Regions from separate parts of the Homo sapiens genome. Here region 2 is linked to region 1. The links come from fine-mapping of genetic effects on gene expression. A gene starts in region 1. The other region holds a variant in brackets. All regions are shown on one strand. Distances are from middle to middle. Region 1 holds the start of CD28 (CD28 molecule). Region 2 overlaps CD28 (CD28 molecule).

The links. PIP is the estimated chance that this variant, and not a neighbour inherited with it, causes the effect.
Region 2: its variant is fine-mapped to the expression of CD28 in whole blood (TOPMed, PIP 0.94).

What each region holds. Positions count from the first base shown.
Region 1 is chr2:203,700,657-203,709,730 of GRCh38, forward strand. It overlaps CD28 (CD28 molecule), which reads left to right and starts at 5,983. Exons shown (of 4, transcript NM_006139.4): 1 at 5,983-6,092. The coding sequence starts at 6,041. RefSeq lists an enhancer at 5,863-6,012.
Region 2 is chr2:203,731,987-203,741,247 of GRCh38, forward strand. It overlaps CD28 (CD28 molecule), which reads left to right. Exons shown (of 4, transcript NM_006139.4): 4 at 2,798-6,926. The coding sequence ends at 2,926. Among named protein-coding and RNA genes, the nearest start is that of CD28, 30 kb to the left of the region's middle. The variant A/C (reference allele first, on the strand shown) is at 4,022.

The DNA of each region.
Region 1 (9,074 bases):
AAATACAAAAATTAGCTGGGCCTGGTGGTGCATGCCTGTAATCCCAGCTACCTGGGAGGCTGAGGCAGGAGAATTGCTTGAACCTGGGAGGCAGAAGTTGCAGTGAGCCAAGATCGTGCCATTGTACTCTAGCCTGGGCAACAAGAGCGAAACTCTGTCTCAAAAAATAAAAAAATAAAATTAAATTAAATTAAAAAAAAGAAAATATGGCACATATATACTATGGAATACTATGCAGCCATAAAAAGAATGAGTTCATATCCATCGTCTCAGCCCAAAAACTCCTTCTGATAAGCAACTTCAGCAAAGTCTCAGGATACAAAATCAATAGGCAAAAATCACAAGCATTCCTATACACCAATAATAGACAAGTAGAGAGCCAAATCATGAGTGAACTCCCATTCACAATTGCTACAAAGAAAATAAGATACTTAGGAATACAGCTTACAAGGGATGTGAAGGACCTCTTCAAGGAGAACTACAAACCACTGCTCAAGGAAATAAGAGAGGACACAAACAAATGGAAAAACATTCCATGCTCATGAATAGGAAGAATCAGTACCATGAGATTGGCCATATGGCCCAAAGTAACTTATAGATTCAATACTATTACCATCAAGCTACCATTGACTTTCTTTGCAGAATTAGAAAAAACTACTTTAAATTTCATATGGAACCAAAAAAGAGCCTATATAGCCAAGAGAATCCTAAGCAAAAACAACAAAGCTGGAGGCATCCTGCTACCTGACTTCAAACTGTACTATAAGGCTACAGTAACCAAAACAGCATGGTACTGGTACCAAAACAGATATATAGACCAATGGAACGAAACAGAGACCTCAGAAATAACACCACACGTCTACAACCATCTGATCTTTGACAAACCTGACAAAAACAAGCAATGGGGAAAGGATTCCCTATTTAATAAATGGTGCTGGGAAAACTGGCTAGCCATATGCAGAAAACTTAAACTGGTCCCCTTCCTTATAGCTTATACAAAAATTAACTTAAGATGGATTAAAGATTTAAATGTAAAACCTAAAACCATAAAAACCCTAGAAGCAAACCAAGGCAATACCATTCAGGACATAGGCATGGGCAAAGACTTCATGACTAAAACACCAAAAGCAATCACAACAAAAGCCAAAATTGACAAATGAGATCTAATTAAAACTAAAGAGCTTCTGCACAGCAAAAGAAACTACCATGAGTGAATAAGCAAACTACAGAATGGGAGAAATTTTTGCAATCTATCCATCTGACAAACGTCTAATATCCAGAATCTGTAAGGAACTTAAACAAATTTACAAGAAAAAAACAACCCCATAAAAAGTGGGCAAAGGATACGAACAGACACTTCTCAAAAGAAGACATTTCTGCAGCCAACAAACATGAAAAAAAGCTCATCATCACTGATCATTAGAGAAATGCAAATCAAAACCACAATGAGATACCGTCTCACGCTGGTTAGAATGGCAATTATTAAAAAGTCAGGAAACAACGGATGCTGGCGAGGCTGTGGAGAAATAGGAACTCTTTTACGCTGTTGGTGGGAGTGTAAATTAGTTCAACCATTGTGGAAGACAGTGTGTCGATTCCTCAAGGATCTAGAACCAGAAATACCATTTGACCCAGCAATCCCATTACTGGGTATATACCCAAAGGATTATAAATCATTCTACTGTAAAGACATGCACACGTATGCTTATTGCAGCACTATTTACAACAGCAAAAACTTAGAACCAACCCAAATGCCCATCAATGATAGACTAGATAAAGAAAATATGGCACGTATATACTATGGAACACTATGCAGCCATAAAAAAGTATGAGTTCATGTCCTTTGCAGGGACATGGATGAAGCTGGAAGCCATCATTCTCAGCAAACTAACACAGGAGCAGAAAACCAAACACCACATGTTCTCACTCATAAGTGGGAGTTGAACAATGAGAACACATGGACACAGGGAGGGTAACATCACACACTGTGACCTGTCAGGGGGTGGGGATCAAGGGGAGGGAGAGCATTAGGACAAATACCTAATACATATGGGGCTTAAAACCTAGATGATGGGTTAATAGGTGCAGCAAACCACCATGGCACACGTATACCTTTGTAACAAACCTGCACGTTCTGCACATGTATCCCAGAACTTGAAGTAAATTTAAAAAAACAAAAAGAAAGAAAAATGTCTGTTCATGTCCTCTGCCTACTTTTTAATGGGATTGTTTTTTTCTTGTTGAGTTGTTTCAGTTCCATGTAGATTCTGGTTATTAGCCTTTTGTCAGATGTTTAGTTTGCAAATATTTTTCCCATTCTATAGTTATCTACTTACTCTGTTGATTGTTTCTTTTGCTGTGCAGAAGCTTTTTAGTTTATTTAAGTCCCATGTGTCTATTTTGTTGCCTTTGCTTCTGAGGACTTGTTCATAAATTCTTTGCCTCGGCAGATGTAAAAAAGAGTTTTTTCTTGGTTTTCTTCTGGGATTTTTATAGTTTCAGGTCTTACATTTAGGGCTTTAATGCATATTATGTTAATTTTTGTATATGGTGAGAGGTATGGGCCCCGTTTCATTCTTCTGCATATAGCTAGCCAATTTTCCCAGCACCATTTATTGAATAGGGAGTCCTCTCCCCAGCATATATTTTTGTTAACTTTGTTGAAGATCAGTTGGTTGTAGATATGTGGCTTTATCTCTGGGTTCTCTATTCTGTTCCATTGTTCTATGTATCTATTTTTATACTAGTACCATGCTGTTTTGGTTACTATAGTTTTACCATGTAATTTGAAGTTAGGTAATGTGATACTTCAAAGCTTTGTTCTTTTTGCTTAGGATTGCTTTGACTATTCAGCTCTTTTTGGATTCCACACGATTTTTAGGATTGCTTTTTCAAATTCTGTGAAAAATGACATTCTTTTGTTCTGACAATTCTTAACCCCACTTCAGACCAGTTTTCTCATCTGTAAAATGGAGATAATAATAATCTTCCTCACAGGTTGTGTATTAAATGAGATCTGGAATGTAAAGTTCTTAGTATGGAAATGCTATTATTTTTACTGAAAATGTTGTAGGGTCTCAGTATCCTGTGTATTGCCGGATTTAAGGTCCTTATTTTATTTCTGTCATTTCTACCTCTTGGTATATGTGAATGCTATTGGATTTCAAAAGCAAATGTGAAAGGATTCTAATGAAATGGTTTGCTTCTTTAGTGTCATACATGTTAAAACATAGGAAGGCAAATGTCAAAGTTTGTGTTTCTTTTTATTCTATGGAAAGAAAATTAAATATGGCTCATCAAATAATAAGGCCAATAATATTTAATTATTGTTTTGTGAATTCGTATAAATGAGCTGACCTCTCTGGGCTGCAGCTTCCTTCTCTGCAAGATAAGGGAATTAGGCCAGATGAGTGAACTGTTTCTTTTTCAGCTAAGTTTGACCCGATTACTACTATTTACATAGTATTAACTAGATGCTATGTAGTCATCTTTAATATGCTTGAAGACAGTTATTAACTCACTCCTTAGCCTTTTGTTGTTGATCATGGAAAACTACTGGGTATCTTTGTTTCTTCTGTGTATATTCTCAGTATGTATAATGAGTCTCAGAGCCTCTTGTTTTAAGATCTGGGTAGGCTGGTGGCTCTAGAATATGGATGACCTTTTAGGAAAGGTCACCTTGCCATCTGTAAATTTTCCCCCAGATAGACTTCAGGCCCTGGGGAAGGCATGGGTTCCCCTAACTGGATAGAGGATCAGAGCCAGGAAGACTGTGTCAAATTCTAGAAGTGAATCTTCTCCAGGACTCAGGGCATAGCTTTGTCACTTACCTATAGTTCAGAAGTGTGAGTGAATCATTTCCAAGGACAAATTTCTCCAAAGGACCAAAAGATGTGTTAGTAAGAGGGGTTCACAAAGACTGTGTTTGTGGGAAAATTGAAGTGTGAACAAAGAAGGTCTACCAGGACAGGAAATACTTTTGATCTGTCATTTATCAGATCAGGAGGGAGGGACATGAAGCCTGCCTCCTCTTACAGCTAGGTCATCAAAGAGTTTGACTGTAGCATTTTAAAATAGCGAAGAAAAAAAGGTAACAACACTAGGGGTTTGTTAAACAATTTATGATATAATTAGAGAATGGAATATTATGCATCAATTACAAATAATGTTTATAAAGATACTTAAATGACATGGGAAAATGTTCAAGATATAACAAATAATAGTACATATCTGATGAAAACTATAAGTAAAACATGATATTAAACATGTAAAAATCTTAACAGACCAACAGGTGGAAGGCAGTGGACCAGAATATTAGCAGTGTTTATATTAGGGTGGTAAGAATGTGGATGAATCTTGTTTTAATGCTTATAATTTTTCTAAACATTCTCAATGAAATATGCCTTACTTTTATAGTCAGAATAAAAAGCAATACAAGTTATCTTTTAAAACAACCCACATACACAAAACCCCCAACTAGAGTAATTGCACAAAGCTTAGATTATCAAAAAGAAGAAAAAAATTACTGGAAAAGTTTTGAAGAAGTCATTGAGTACAAGATACTGACGTAGGTGCCGGAAGAAGAGAGCAGTTGGCCGTGCTGGTGGAATAACCCTCTCTGCAAAGGGCCTGGGAGTTGAAGAAGGGTGCAGTCGGGTGGTGGTTATGAATCTCAGAAATCCTGCCACGGAGCCTCCTTTTGTGCCCTATTACTTAACCTTGAGGGACATAGAGAGCATGAGACACCAAGGGGCTTTTGGTTGCCTTACTGTCCCACTAAGAACATAGAATGTTGTTTTGACTTTCCCTTTGCTTAGGGAACCTCCCCCAGATACTCAGCTGGCTGGCTGCTTGCACGTAGAATGGGTTTTGCAAAGTTCCTAGAAGTGAGTTGGAGGAGGCTTGACATAAATCAAGCACTGTGTGCTAAATGCTCCAGAGGGCTACCTTATGTCCTACACAAATGTTACATTTCTAATATTTGTAACTCCTTTAAACGTTTATGCAGATGTTTCCCAATTCCTCAGTAGAATTCTTACCATTATCTTTTTGACACAACCTGTCCCCATCCTATGAAAATCTCTCCTCTGCTAGAGACTTTATTCTTTCTTTCTCTCTCTCCCCCTTCCTTCCTTCCCTCCCTCCCTCTTTCTTTCTTTCCATCTTTCTTTCTTTCTTTCTTTCTTTCTTTCTTTCTTTCTTTCTTTCTTTCTTTCTTTCTCTTTCTTTCTTTCTTTTCTTTCTTTCTTTCTTTCTCTTTCTCTCTCTTTCTTTCTTCCTTTCTTTTTTCTCTCTCCCCTTCCTTCCTTCTTTCCTTCTTTTCTTTTCTTTTCTTTTCTTTTCTTTCTCTCTTTCTTTCTGTCTTTCTTTTCTCATTCTGTTGCCCTGGCTGGAGTGCAGTGGCATGATCTCGGCTCATAGCAGCCTCCACCTCCTGGGTTCAAGCGATTCTCCTGCCTTAGCCTCCCTAGTAGCTGGGATTACAGGTACCCACCATGATGCCTGGCTAATTTTTTGTATTTTCAATGGAGACGGGGTTTCACCATGTTGGCCAGGCTCGTCTTGACCTCCTGGCCTCAAATGATCCACCCACTTTGGCCTCCCAAATTGCTGGCATTACAGGCGTGAGCCACTGCACCCGGCCTGTTCCTTCTTAAGAACACTTTGTCTCCCCTTTAATCTCTGCTGGATTTCAAGCACCCCTTTTACACAACTCTTGATATCCATCAATAAAGAATAATTCCCATAAGCCCATCATGTAGTGACCGACTATTTTTCAGTGACAAAAAAAAAGTCTTTAAAAATAGAAGTAAAAGTCTAAAGTCATCAAAACAACGTTATATCCTGTGTGAAATGCTGCAGTCAGGATGCCTTGTGGTTTGAGTGCCTTGATCATGTGCCCTAAGGGGATGGTGGCGGTGGTGGTGGCCGTGGATGACGGAGACTCTCAGGCCTTGGCAGGTGCGTCTTTCAGTTCCCCTCACACTTCGGGTTCCTCGGGGAGGAGGGGCTGGAACCCTAGCCCATCGTCAGGACAAAGATGCTCAGGCTGCTCTTGGCTCTCAACTTATTCCCTTCAATTCAAGTAACAGGTAAACAATGTTAATGTCTTTCTTTCTGTAAATATTTTTTGAGGTCTTCCAATTGGCTTAGTTTATTTTAAATTTCTAACAATGTGTGAAATTTGAACATTTGAAGTGTAGTTTTGCTGTAATAGGGCAATGTGTTATTTTGAAAATCATTGATTCTCAGACTACAATATAGTATCTTAACAAAAGTCCCTTGGAAATAAATTTTCTAAGCTATTAGTTTCTCTAGCTATTAGTTGATAGTGTCCCAAGAATTTATTATTATTATTATTATTTTAAATTGAGATGGGGTTTCACTATGTTGCCCAGGCTGGTCTCAAACTTCTGAGCTCAAGCAATCCACCTGCCTCTGCCTCCCAAAGTGCTAGGGTTACAGGCATGAGCTACCATGCCCGGCCAATAATTTTTAATTTATGTATCGTTTCTTTCTTTCTTTCTTTTTTTTTTTAATTTAAGAAAGCTGCTGTAAGTAGATTGGCTCTGGAAGCTCTGAATTTAGGTTGCCTATGTTCCTAACACAGGTCCAATTCTCACTAGGTAAGCTTAGGCTTAGCTATTATTTAAACTCTCCAAACCTCAGTTTCCTTAACTGTAAAGTGGGAATAATAATAAACCTCACCTCAAGGTCATTGTGAGGTAAAATGAAATAATCCATGCGAAGGGCTTAGCTCAGTCAGGCTTCAAGATAAATGTGAACTGTAATTACTCTATCTACCTGAATTGAATGAGTTCCAACATGAATTCTGGAGTCACCACAGAAGCTGCTACAACACCAATATTAATAAATTAGTTTTCTTTTACAATCGGCCAAAATGTATTTTCTTAGATTAAAATTCTTTAAGTTCCCAATGACGATGATGAGGAGGATAATACATCTAGCACTTTGAGCAGCACACAGTTCTCGTAACTAGAAGGTAGGTATTACAGTTAACTTCATTTCAGATGAAGAGACTGAGGGGTAGGCACATTAAGGGATTTGCCCAAGGATGTACAGGTGGCAGCTATAGGAGGCAGGGTCTGAACCACCTTAGTCTGACTCCAGTGCCGGTGTTGTTGATTATTATGCTATTCCATCTAACATGGTGTGATTTGTAATTTCATGGACTCAGGTAAATCCAGGGTTAAATTAACTTCGGAAAATCACAAGCACAATTCCTAACAGAAAGAATTTGTTACTTGGGTGGGCTGGAGTAAGATGCTCATTCAACGTGTTCTCAGAGTTAGAAAAAGGCCCCCGCTTGGTTCAAAAACTGGACTGATAGGGGTCAACAGTCATGCTTAAATAAGGACAGTTATTTTTCCCTGAAAGATACATTGAAAAGCCAGTATCCTCAATTTTCTTTCTTATTTTGGCAGTACAGAGACTGCATTATTTGTTGTTATTCTTAAACATTAAGTGTACATAGCCCAAAGAGTATAATTTCCCAATCTGCAGAGGTACAGTAGTTGCATATATACCCGTTTATTTTATGGTCTGACGTACCAGTGAGCACAAATTGTGTATATTTATAAAACGTGTTGATATAATGAAAGACATGAGTTGGCAATGAGATCTGGTACCAAGCGTTTACAGCTACCAAATATATTCTACAAGAATCTTTAACATTTATTTTAAAAAGGTCAAACCTTATTTTTAAGAGATCTCTCAAACTTAAAGAATATTTAAAATTACTTAATTTGTTAGACAGTCAAGGGAAGCCTACCCTGACTGAAAACTATTTAAAATTGGTAATTGTACACTAAATACTTTTCTGATGTGCTTTGTGGACACCTATCTGTCATCAACTTATTCACTCTCTTTTGAAGAGTTTTTGGTAAGACTCAAAACTTTGTATGTTTTCTTTAGAACATTTATTAAAAGGGGACTAGCTAGATAAGTGGTTGGAGAGTTCACACACATAGGGCCTTTGTTTTCTACTTTGACATATATTTACTTTTCAAATGCCAATTCACTTTTCTAGTAACTTTTAGCATTTGATACTGAGTGGCTATCTAATGAAGAAGGAAAGAGATGGGAGTGAAGGGGACACTTTTACAGTCTTTTCCAGTAAGAAAACTTACGAGCAAGAAAAGAATGACCACATAAAAAATGTATGATTTGGCCTGGTGTGGTGGCTCACGCCTGTAATCGTGGGACGCTGAGGCGGGTGGATCACTTGAGGTCAGGAGTTGGAGACCCGTCGGGCTAACATGGTGAAATCCCATCTCTACTAAAAATACAAAAAAATTAGCAGGGTGTGGTGGCATGCGCCTGTAATCCCAGCTACTTGTGAGGCTTAGGCAGGAGAATTGCTTAAACCCGGGACGCGGAGGTTGCTGTGAACTTAGATTGCACCCCTGCACTCCAGCCTGGGAAACAGTCTCAAAAAAAAAAAAAAATTATGCTGCATTCTAATCAAATAGTGCAAAGCTTCTTGTGTGCTTTGCCTTTCTCTGTACACACCTTCCATTAAGAAATTATAGATAGGGAAATTCTCTGGTCAAAGTGTAACTGTCCTTCCTAGGTCTGAGAAACCACTGTTATGCCTGTGTTGAGATGTGTATCTGTGTGCGTGCATGTGTGTGTATGTATGTATATGAAGAATAGTTCTTTTTTCCATTAATTTAATAATGTGTGTGTATGTATGTATATGAAGAATAGTTCTTTTTTCCATTAATTTAATAATGTAACTTATTTGTTTACAGCATAGCTTAAAATATTTATTCTATAAAGGTTAAGTCTAACCTGATTCCTTATGAGTTGGATGACAGTGTAGAGAGATATTTATGGCTAAGTTAAAGAAGTGTGATTTAGGAAGAGTGAGGAAACCTTAACTTAGATAAGCCCTTTGCATGTTTTCTACTAGACTCGGATAATTGTGCAACTGAGATCCACAGAGAGTATTTTGCTGGACTTTGGGATAGGAGTCCAGCCCAGAACTACAGAGCCTTAAGAGGGAAATGCTCTGGGATTGATGATAGAAGGATGGTATGCACAAAATACTT
Region 2 (9,261 bases), 31 kb after region 1:
CTATATTTCGTAGAATAACATAGTATTTTTACTCTGGGCTCATCTTTTCCTGCTGTTGGTATTTAAGCAACAAGTACCTTGCTGAGTTGGGCATCTAGGCCATTATGGATCCCTGGAGTTTAGCTGTTTCCTGGGTAATTTTCTGAGATCCTATTTTTGGCTGGTCTGCAGCGTGCCTTGATGTAAGTTGCTGTTTTCCGGAACTTCCTGAGGGCCTGATATGCTACTGTAGGCAGTTCTGGGTTGAGTGGGTTTCTAGGCTGAGCGGGTTTCTGGGAGCAGCTGCAGATTCTATCTCAGTTCTTGACCTGATGTTGACATTTGAGTAAATAAAGAGCTCCCTTTGGTCAAGCTGTCACAGGCCAGCACCTGTCACTGTCTTTCAATTCTCCATTCATGCAGCTGTGCTGGTAAAGCTGCCCGTTTTCCTAAAGAAATCTTTTTAAAAAACATTATGTTCCCCACTGCAGATCATAATGTGAGGAATGTAGATAGTGTGTGTACAGGTAGTGTCTGCTTTTTATAATAATCCAGTAGATTCTTGAAGACCACGTACTTAAGTAGATTACCTTGCATATGCCCTGTGTATTGCTGCTGTTCCCAGGAAACAAGTGGGTAAGGCTGGCATGGGGAGAAGGGCAAAGGAGGAATGGTCCAGAAATTACATATCATTAGCTGACATTCACTGTTGAAGGGGTGGAGATGACACAGACACATAGGGTAGGTACTTCCTGCACACATATGCACACATACTCAATGCACATGGGTGCTGTAGGTTCTGCGTGGTGTTTGTTCCCAGCCATGCATCTGTCATTTTCATCCCACTGCTGTGTTTAGAGTTAGGGTGATAATAAGTAAGTCTGCCATCTGACAATCACTTGAGGATAAGCATGGGAGCTGACTGCAACAGACCTTTCATTATTTTATGTGCAATGTAAAGAACCTGAGAATCAAGACACCTTTATTGCTGTGGCCTCTCTACCAGCTATGATTTGGTTTGGGTGTCCGGAGGCAGAGGCTGACACTTGGAGGTTTGGCAAAGGGAGTCCTCAGGGTTGGAGTAAGTACTAAAAATGCTTCCCAGGTTATCAGCTGTTTTCTACACTCATCTGGGGACAGACATTTCCTCGGCCTCACCCCTGCCCTGCTGTGATCTTGTGCTCAAGACAGCTCTAGTCTTTCATTTACAGAAAGGATGTAGAACCAAAACAATTCTTCATTGCATTGTAGGATGTTTAGCAGCATCTCTGACCTCTACCCAGTAGATGCCAGTAGCATCCCTCCCCGTTGTGATGATCCAAAATGTTTTTAGACTTCACTAAATGTCTCCTGGGACAGGGATTAAGGGAGCTTGAGGTGTCAAGGATGAGGTTAGGAGGTCTGTCTTGGGCAGCTGTATATATGGTAGTGTCATTCACTCAGATGAGAAACACTGGTAAAAAAAAAACAGCATTTGGGGGAAATCTTGAGTTTTATTTTAGACATGTTGAGTTTAGAGTGGCTTTGAGGTTTAGTCCAGAGATATAAATTTGGGTGAGTAGGTGGTAATTGAAGCTGTGAATGTGGATAAGATTGCCTAGGGAAAGAGGATAGAGAAGAAGGCCTAGGACCAAGCAGTGAGAAATTCTAACGGCTGGTTAGAGAAGGATGAGCTTGCAAAGGAGGCAGGGAAGGAGTGACAAGACAGGTAGGATAAAAACTGGGATGTCATAGATGGCAAAGAGAAATAGTATCACAAAAAGAAGAGAGTTATCAATAGTATAGAATACTGCTGAGAGTTGAAGAAGATGAGGACTTAAAACATGTTAGCTGTGTTTAGTAACATGGAAGTCAGCGTTTTTCAAACCTTTCTTTAGCACTTACTCATGCCCCTTTGACAAGGAAGGTGTGAAGTGCTCAGGCAGGAGTGTATGGAAACAAAACCAGGGCTGAAATCATTCACTTATTTATTCATTCAGGTATCATGTCATTCATGTACAGCATTATCTACTTAGGTATCAGCCTGTGTGCCAGGAACTAGGCACTTTTTTCATAATAGAGAATTCTGAATCCAGAAATCTGATGGCTTTCTGTTTTTAGATGTTTTCTGGGTCATTTGTTAAGAAATGTAGAATTTTACTATCACATTGATTCAGAAATGATGTTCCTAACCCTTAGTCAAAAATTTTGCTAAGATTCATGGTGGGTGAAACTATTGCCCTTACTTCCCTCACTTCTGGTGGAAATTCATCCTGATGGAGCCAAGCCTATGAAAGAGAGATGAGTGTAGAAATACATACCCATAAAGACATAGGAATGTACTAGTTGTCTAGAACTGTAAATTGCCATTAGTTTGGACTCCACCTTTACAAATTTGTGATTATTACAGACTCTGGAGGAGTTGAAAGTCCTCTTCGGTTAATTATGGAAAAACAGCTTGTTAAGCAAATGCTAATGTAAGAAGATCACAATGTGGGTAGGCTTAACCTAGTCAAAGGAGGAAGGGCCTTCAAGTGTATTTACATATCAACAGTGGATATGTTAATTAGTGTGCATTTTTAATTCAGGTCAGATGACAGCATTGAGAGTAACAGGGATGCATTTCTCTAAAATACTTTCTTTGAGATTTTTCAAGTTCAATGTGAAGAGTCAGTAGTTGGGTGTGATTAGTCATTACCCAAGTCCAAGGTGCTCAAAAAAGGTTAGTGTTTTAGTGTCTCTGTCATTTGACAGTTAATATTATGAATAGTTGTGCCCACAGTCTTAGAACTCCTTCCATGACATTGTCCCTCCATACTGACACTTCTCTTTCCTGCAGGTGAGGAGTAAGAGGAGCAGGCTCCTGCACAGTGACTACATGAACATGACTCCCCGCCGCCCCGGGCCCACCCGCAAGCATTACCAGCCCTATGCCCCACCACGCGACTTCGCAGCCTATCGCTCCTGACACGGACGCCTATCCAGAAGCCAGCCGGCTGGCAGCCCCCATCTGCTCAATATCACTGCTCTGGATAGGAAATGACCGCCATCTCCAGCCGGCCACCTCAGGCCCCTGTTGGGCCACCAATGCCAATTTTTCTCGAGTGACTAGACCAAATATCAAGATCATTTTGAGACTCTGAAATGAAGTAAAAGAGATTTCCTGTGACAGGCCAAGTCTTACAGTGCCATGGCCCACATTCCAACTTACCATGTACTTAGTGACTTGACTGAGAAGTTAGGGTAGAAAACAAAAAGGGAGTGGATTCTGGGAGCCTCTTCCCTTTCTCACTCACCTGCACATCTCAGTCAAGCAAAGTGTGGTATCCACAGACATTTTAGTTGCAGAAGAAAGGCTAGGAAATCATTCCTTTTGGTTAAATGGGTGTTTAATCTTTTGGTTAGTGGGTTAAACGGGGTAAGTTAGAGTAGGGGGAGGGATAGGAAGACATATTTAAAAACCATTAAAACACTGTCTCCCACTCATGAAATGAGCCACGTAGTTCCTATTTAATGCTGTTTTCCTTTAGTTTAGAAATACATAGACATTGTCTTTTATGAATTCTGATCATATTTAGTCATTTTGACCAAATGAGGGATTTGGTCAAATGAGGGATTCCCTCAAAGCAATATCAGGTAAACCAAGTTGCTTTCCTCACTCCCTGTCATGAGACTTCAGTGTTAATGTTCACAATATACTTTCGAAAGAATAAAATAGTTCTCCTACATGAAGAAAGAATATGTCAGGAAATAAGGTCACTTTATGTCAAAATTATTTGAGTACTATGGGACCTGGCGCAGTGGCTCATGCTTGTAATCCCAGCACTTTGGGAGGCCGAGGTGGGCAGATCACTTGAGATCAGGACCAGCCTGGTCAAGATGGTGAAACTCCGTCTGTACTAAAAATACAAAATTTAGCTTGGCCTGGTGGCAGGCACCTGTAATCCCAGCTGCCCAAGAGGCTGAGGCATGAGAATCGCTTGAACCTGGCAGGCGGAGGTTGCAGTGAGCCGAGATAGTGCCACAGCTCTCCAGCCTGGGCGACAGAGTGAGACTCCATCTC[A/C]AACAACAACAACAACAACAACAACAACAACAAACCACAAAATTATTTGAGTACTGTGAAGGATTATTTGTCTAACAGTTCATTCCAATCAGACCAGGTAGGAGCTTTCCTGTTTCATATGTTTCAGGGTTGCACAGTTGGTCTCTTTAATGTCGGTGTGGAGATCCAAAGTGGGTTGTGGAAAGAGCGTCCATAGGAGAAGTGAGAATACTGTGAAAAAGGGATGTTAGCATTCATTAGAGTATGAGGATGAGTCCCAAGAAGGTTCTTTGGAAGGAGGACGAATAGAATGGAGTAATGAAATTCTTGCCATGTGCTGAGGAGATAGCCAGCATTAGGTGACAATCTTCCAGAAGTGGTCAGGCAGAAGGTGCCCTGGTGAGAGCTCCTTTACAGGGACTTTATGTGGTTTAGGGCTCAGAGCTCCAAAACTCTGGGCTCAGCTGCTCCTGTACCTTGGAGGTCCATTCACATGGGAAAGTATTTTGGAATGTGTCTTTTGAAGAGAGCATCAGAGTTCTTAAGGGACTGGGTAAGGCCTGACCCTGAAATGACCATGGATATTTTTCTACCTACAGTTTGAGTCAACTAGAATATGCCTGGGGACCTTGAAGAATGGCCCTTCAGTGGCCCTCACCATTTGTTCATGCTTCAGTTAATTCAGGTGTTGAAGGAGCTTAGGTTTTAGAGGCACGTAGACTTGGTTCAAGTCTCGTTAGTAGTTGAATAGCCTCAGGCAAGTCACTGCCCACCTAAGATGATGGTTCTTCAACTATAAAATGGAGATAATGGTTACAAATGTCTCTTCCTATAGTATAATCTCCATAAGGGCATGGCCCAAGTCTGTCTTTGACTCTGCCTATCCCTGACATTTAGTAGCATGCCCGACATACAATGTTAGCTATTGGTATTATTGCCATATAGATAAATTATGTATAAAAATTAAACTGGGCAATAGCCTAAGAAGGGGGGAATATTGTAACACAAATTTAAACCCACTACGCAGGGATGAGGTGCTATAATATGAGGACCTTTTAACTTCCATCATTTTCCTGTTTCTTGAAATAGTTTATCTTGTAATGAAATATAAGGCACCTCCCACTTTTATGTATAGAAAGAGGTCTTTTAATTTTTTTTTAATGTGAGAAGGAAGGGAGGAGTAGGAATCTTGAGATTCCAGATCGAAAATACTGTACTTTGGTTGATTTTTAAGTGGGCTTCCATTCCATGGATTTAATCAGTCCCAAGAAGATCAAACTCAGCAGTACTTGGGTGCTGAAGAACTGTTGGATTTACCCTGGCACGTGTGCCACTTGCCAGCTTCTTGGGCACACAGAGTTCTTCAATCCAAGTTATCAGATTGTATTTGAAAATGACAGAGCTGGAGAGTTTTTTGAAATGGCAGTGGCAAATAAATAAATACTTTTTTTTAAATGGAAAGACTTGATCTATGGTAATAAATGATTTTGTTTTCTGACTGGAAAAATAGGCCTACTAAAGATGAATCACACTTGAGATGTTTCTTACTCACTCTGCACAGAAACAAAGAAGAAATGTTATACAGGGAAGTCCGTTTTCACTATTAGTATGAACCAAGAAATGGTTCAAAAACAGTGGTAGGAGCAATGCTTTCATAGTTTCAGATATGGTAGTTATGAAGAAAACAATGTCATTTGCTGCTATTATTGTAAGAGTCTTATAATTAATGGTACTCCTATAATTTTTGATTGTGAGCTCACCTATTTGGGTTAAGCATGCCAATTTAAAGAGACCAAGTGTATGTACATTATGTTCTACATATTCAGTGATAAAATTACTAAACTACTATATGTCTGCTTTAAATTTGTACTTTAATATTGTCTTTTGGTATTAAGAAAGATATGCTTTCAGAATAGATATGCTTCGCTTTGGCAAGGAATTTGGATAGAACTTGCTATTTAAAAGAGGTGTGGGGTAAATCCTTGTATAAATCTCCAGTTTAGCCTTTTTTGAAAAAGCTAGACTTTCAAATACTAATTTCACTTCAAGCAGGGTACGTTTCTGGTTTGTTTGCTTGACTTCAGTCACAATTTCTTATCAGACCAATGGCTGACCTCTTTGAGATGTCAGGCTAGGCTTACCTATGTGTTCTGTGTCATGTGAATGCTGAGAAGTTTGACAGAGATCCAACTTCAGCCTTGACCCCATCAGTCCCTCGGGTTAACTAACTGAGCCACCGGTCCTCATGGCTATTTTAATGAGGGTATTGATGGTTAAATGCATGTCTGATCCCTTATCCCAGCCATTTGCACTGCCAGCTGGGAACTATACCAGACCTGGATACTGATCCCAAAGTGTTAAATTCAACTACATGCTGGAGATTAGAGATGGTGCCAATAAAGGACCCAGAACCAGGATCTTGATTGCTATAGACTTATTAATAATCCAGGTCAAAGAGAGTGACACACACTCTCTCAAGACCTGGGGTGAGGGAGTCTGTGTTATCTGCAAGGCCATTTGAGGCTCAGAAAGTCTCTCTTTCCTATAGATATATGCATACTTTCTGACATATAGGAATGTATCAGGAATACTCAACCATCACAGGCATGTTCCTACCTCAGGGCCTTTACATGTCCTGTTTACTCTGTCTAGAATGTCCTTCTGTAGATGACCTGGCTTGCCTCGTCACCCTTCAGGTCCTTGCTCAAGTGTCATCTTCTCCCCTAGTTAAACTACCCCACACCCTGTCTGCTTTCCTTGCTTATTTTTCTCCATAGCATTTTACCATCTCTTACATTAGACATTTTTCTTATTTATTTGTAGTTTATAAGCTTCATGAGGCAAGTAACTTTGCTTTGTTTCTTGCTGTATCTCCAGTGCCCAGAGCAGTGCCTGGTATATAATAAATATTTATTGACTGAGTGAATGAGTTTTACATGGCCTTATGAATTAACGGTGAGTCTAAATGTTATAATCATACTTTGAGAGGGAGAAAGCCAGTTCTATTTTCTACTTTCCTCTTAAGAAGTTCAAAAATTCATTTTATTAAAAAAACAGGAGGTAAAATATATACACAGCCAAATCTAGTGAAAGAAAATCTGATGAATATAAGTTCATTTACGTTTTAGAAATTTTTGTGCAGTGAGGAAAACCAGTACTGTTAGAAAAGTCATGCCAACTCAGCCACTGTCAGGAGTAAGTTGATTTTCCATTGAAGTCCCCAAATTCCCTCTTAATGGAGTATTGGCTATATCTTAAACATATCTTTAGTTTAAGACTTCTGAAAATGTTGTCTTTGTCTAAAATGTTAAAATCCCATCCTACTACTGACCTGCTACTCTTTTTTCTGGGGTGATTTTACCCCCAACAAATTCTATAAATGCCTTCTCTGGCTCTGATTCAAAAAGTGCTCACAAATGGAAATGCTGGGGACAGAAAATTTCAACTTCTTCACCTGTCATACTCATATCATAGCTGAACACTCTAATAGCACACACACACACACACACACACACACACACAGACCCACACACACACACACACACCCCTATCATCTTCTGGGTAGGGGAAGGGAAAGGCGCTTGAACAACAGACACAAGAGCTGGTCTAATAATTCATGTAGCACCTTCTGTTTCCTTCGTTGAAATTTTACTCTGAAGGTGACTCAGAGTCAATTAAATTGGTGTGCAATGAGTTCATCTCTAAACTGATTCTTTTCTTTGGTGAAATGAAGCTTATTAAACTTAATAAAGGTAATTAAACTTGAAAAAGATGAGCTTATATGTCTCTTACTACTCCAAGAAAGACTGAACTCAGCTGGTTACTCATGGATAGTTCAATAAGACAAATCAAATCAATTGGAAAGGAACGAGATGGGTAAAAAAAAAAAAGCCATTAAATGAATCTGCTCAATAAGCACTCCTTTACCATGCTAATAAAAATAATGTAACCCAGTTCTGTAAAAAGGTTCTAGTACTTTGAAACTCAAGTTCAAAACAAAATAAAATGCAAACTTCGCTTCACCTAACACCTCCCACAACATTCTAGCTACCCAACTGGGTGAATATTGTAATTGCCCACAACCCCGAATTCACTTTTTCCCTCCAGTATGATAAAACAGATTGATTCCCTTTTAAAGCAATACCCTTTCTTCTCTCCCATCTTGTCGGTATCAGAGATAATGGATAGGTGAGAAAAAATTAAAGAAGCTTCTGGATTCATTGTAATGGGGACCTAACCATCACACTATGCAGCAGCAAATGGGATGGTCTGGAAAGCAGACCAGAACCTTGTCTGGTAACTTTGCTTCTAATGTCTGTCTGTGTTTCCTAAACTGAGGCCTAACTCTTGACTTTTTGACAGTGGTGCTCATAAGAAAGTTTGGGGCTGGGCACGGTCACTCATGCCTGTAATGTCAGCACTTTGGGAGGCTAATGCAGGAGGATCACTTGAGTCTAGGAGTTCAAGACCAGCTTGAACAACATAGGGAGACCCTGTCTGTATTAAAAAAAAAAATTAGCCAGACGTGATGGTGCAGGCCTGTAGTCCCAGCTACTTAGGAGGCTGAGGCTGCAGTGAACTGGGATCATACCCCTTCAAGAACACATGTGAATGGTGGGGCCTCTCAGCTTTCTCTGATTTGGCAACCCAGAAGAAATATGTGCTTTCTCTTTGAAGATTCACAGGATCCTAGCACTTGGAAACCTAGGCCACTGTCCAGAGCAGAAGGTCACACAATTTCTCAGAGTGACTTTTGTTCATTTCAGGGTGTTGACACCGGGCCCAACACTTGAAAATTGCTTGAGATGATAAATTGCTTGAGGTGATCAAAGAATATATCAGCTCTTCAAAGCTGACCTCATTCTTGGTGCAACTCTCAGGGCCAGAATGTGTGCTTCCCGAAGCTCATTTTCCTATCTGATTTGCCTGTTGAAACTCTGTGAAAGACCCTTGAATGCTAGGAATTTGAAGGGACAAAAAGTTGAAGAAAGGTGAATGGATTTCAGGGTGGAAGTGGACTGGATTTTACTCTCACTTCATCAGGCAGAGCTATCTCAGTGATAAATTGAAACTCTCCTCTGGCTCCAAAGAACAAATCATGAGCTGGGTGGAAATGTCAGTTGAGAAGAAGAGCAGCAAACAGCTTTGTTTTCCTATAGTTGTGGTTTTACATGGTGATGATGACACACGAAGATGAAAATGTGCAGCATGAACTCCAGTTGTTATCTGAGTGAGCATCTCTGCCAACACTGAAGGATATG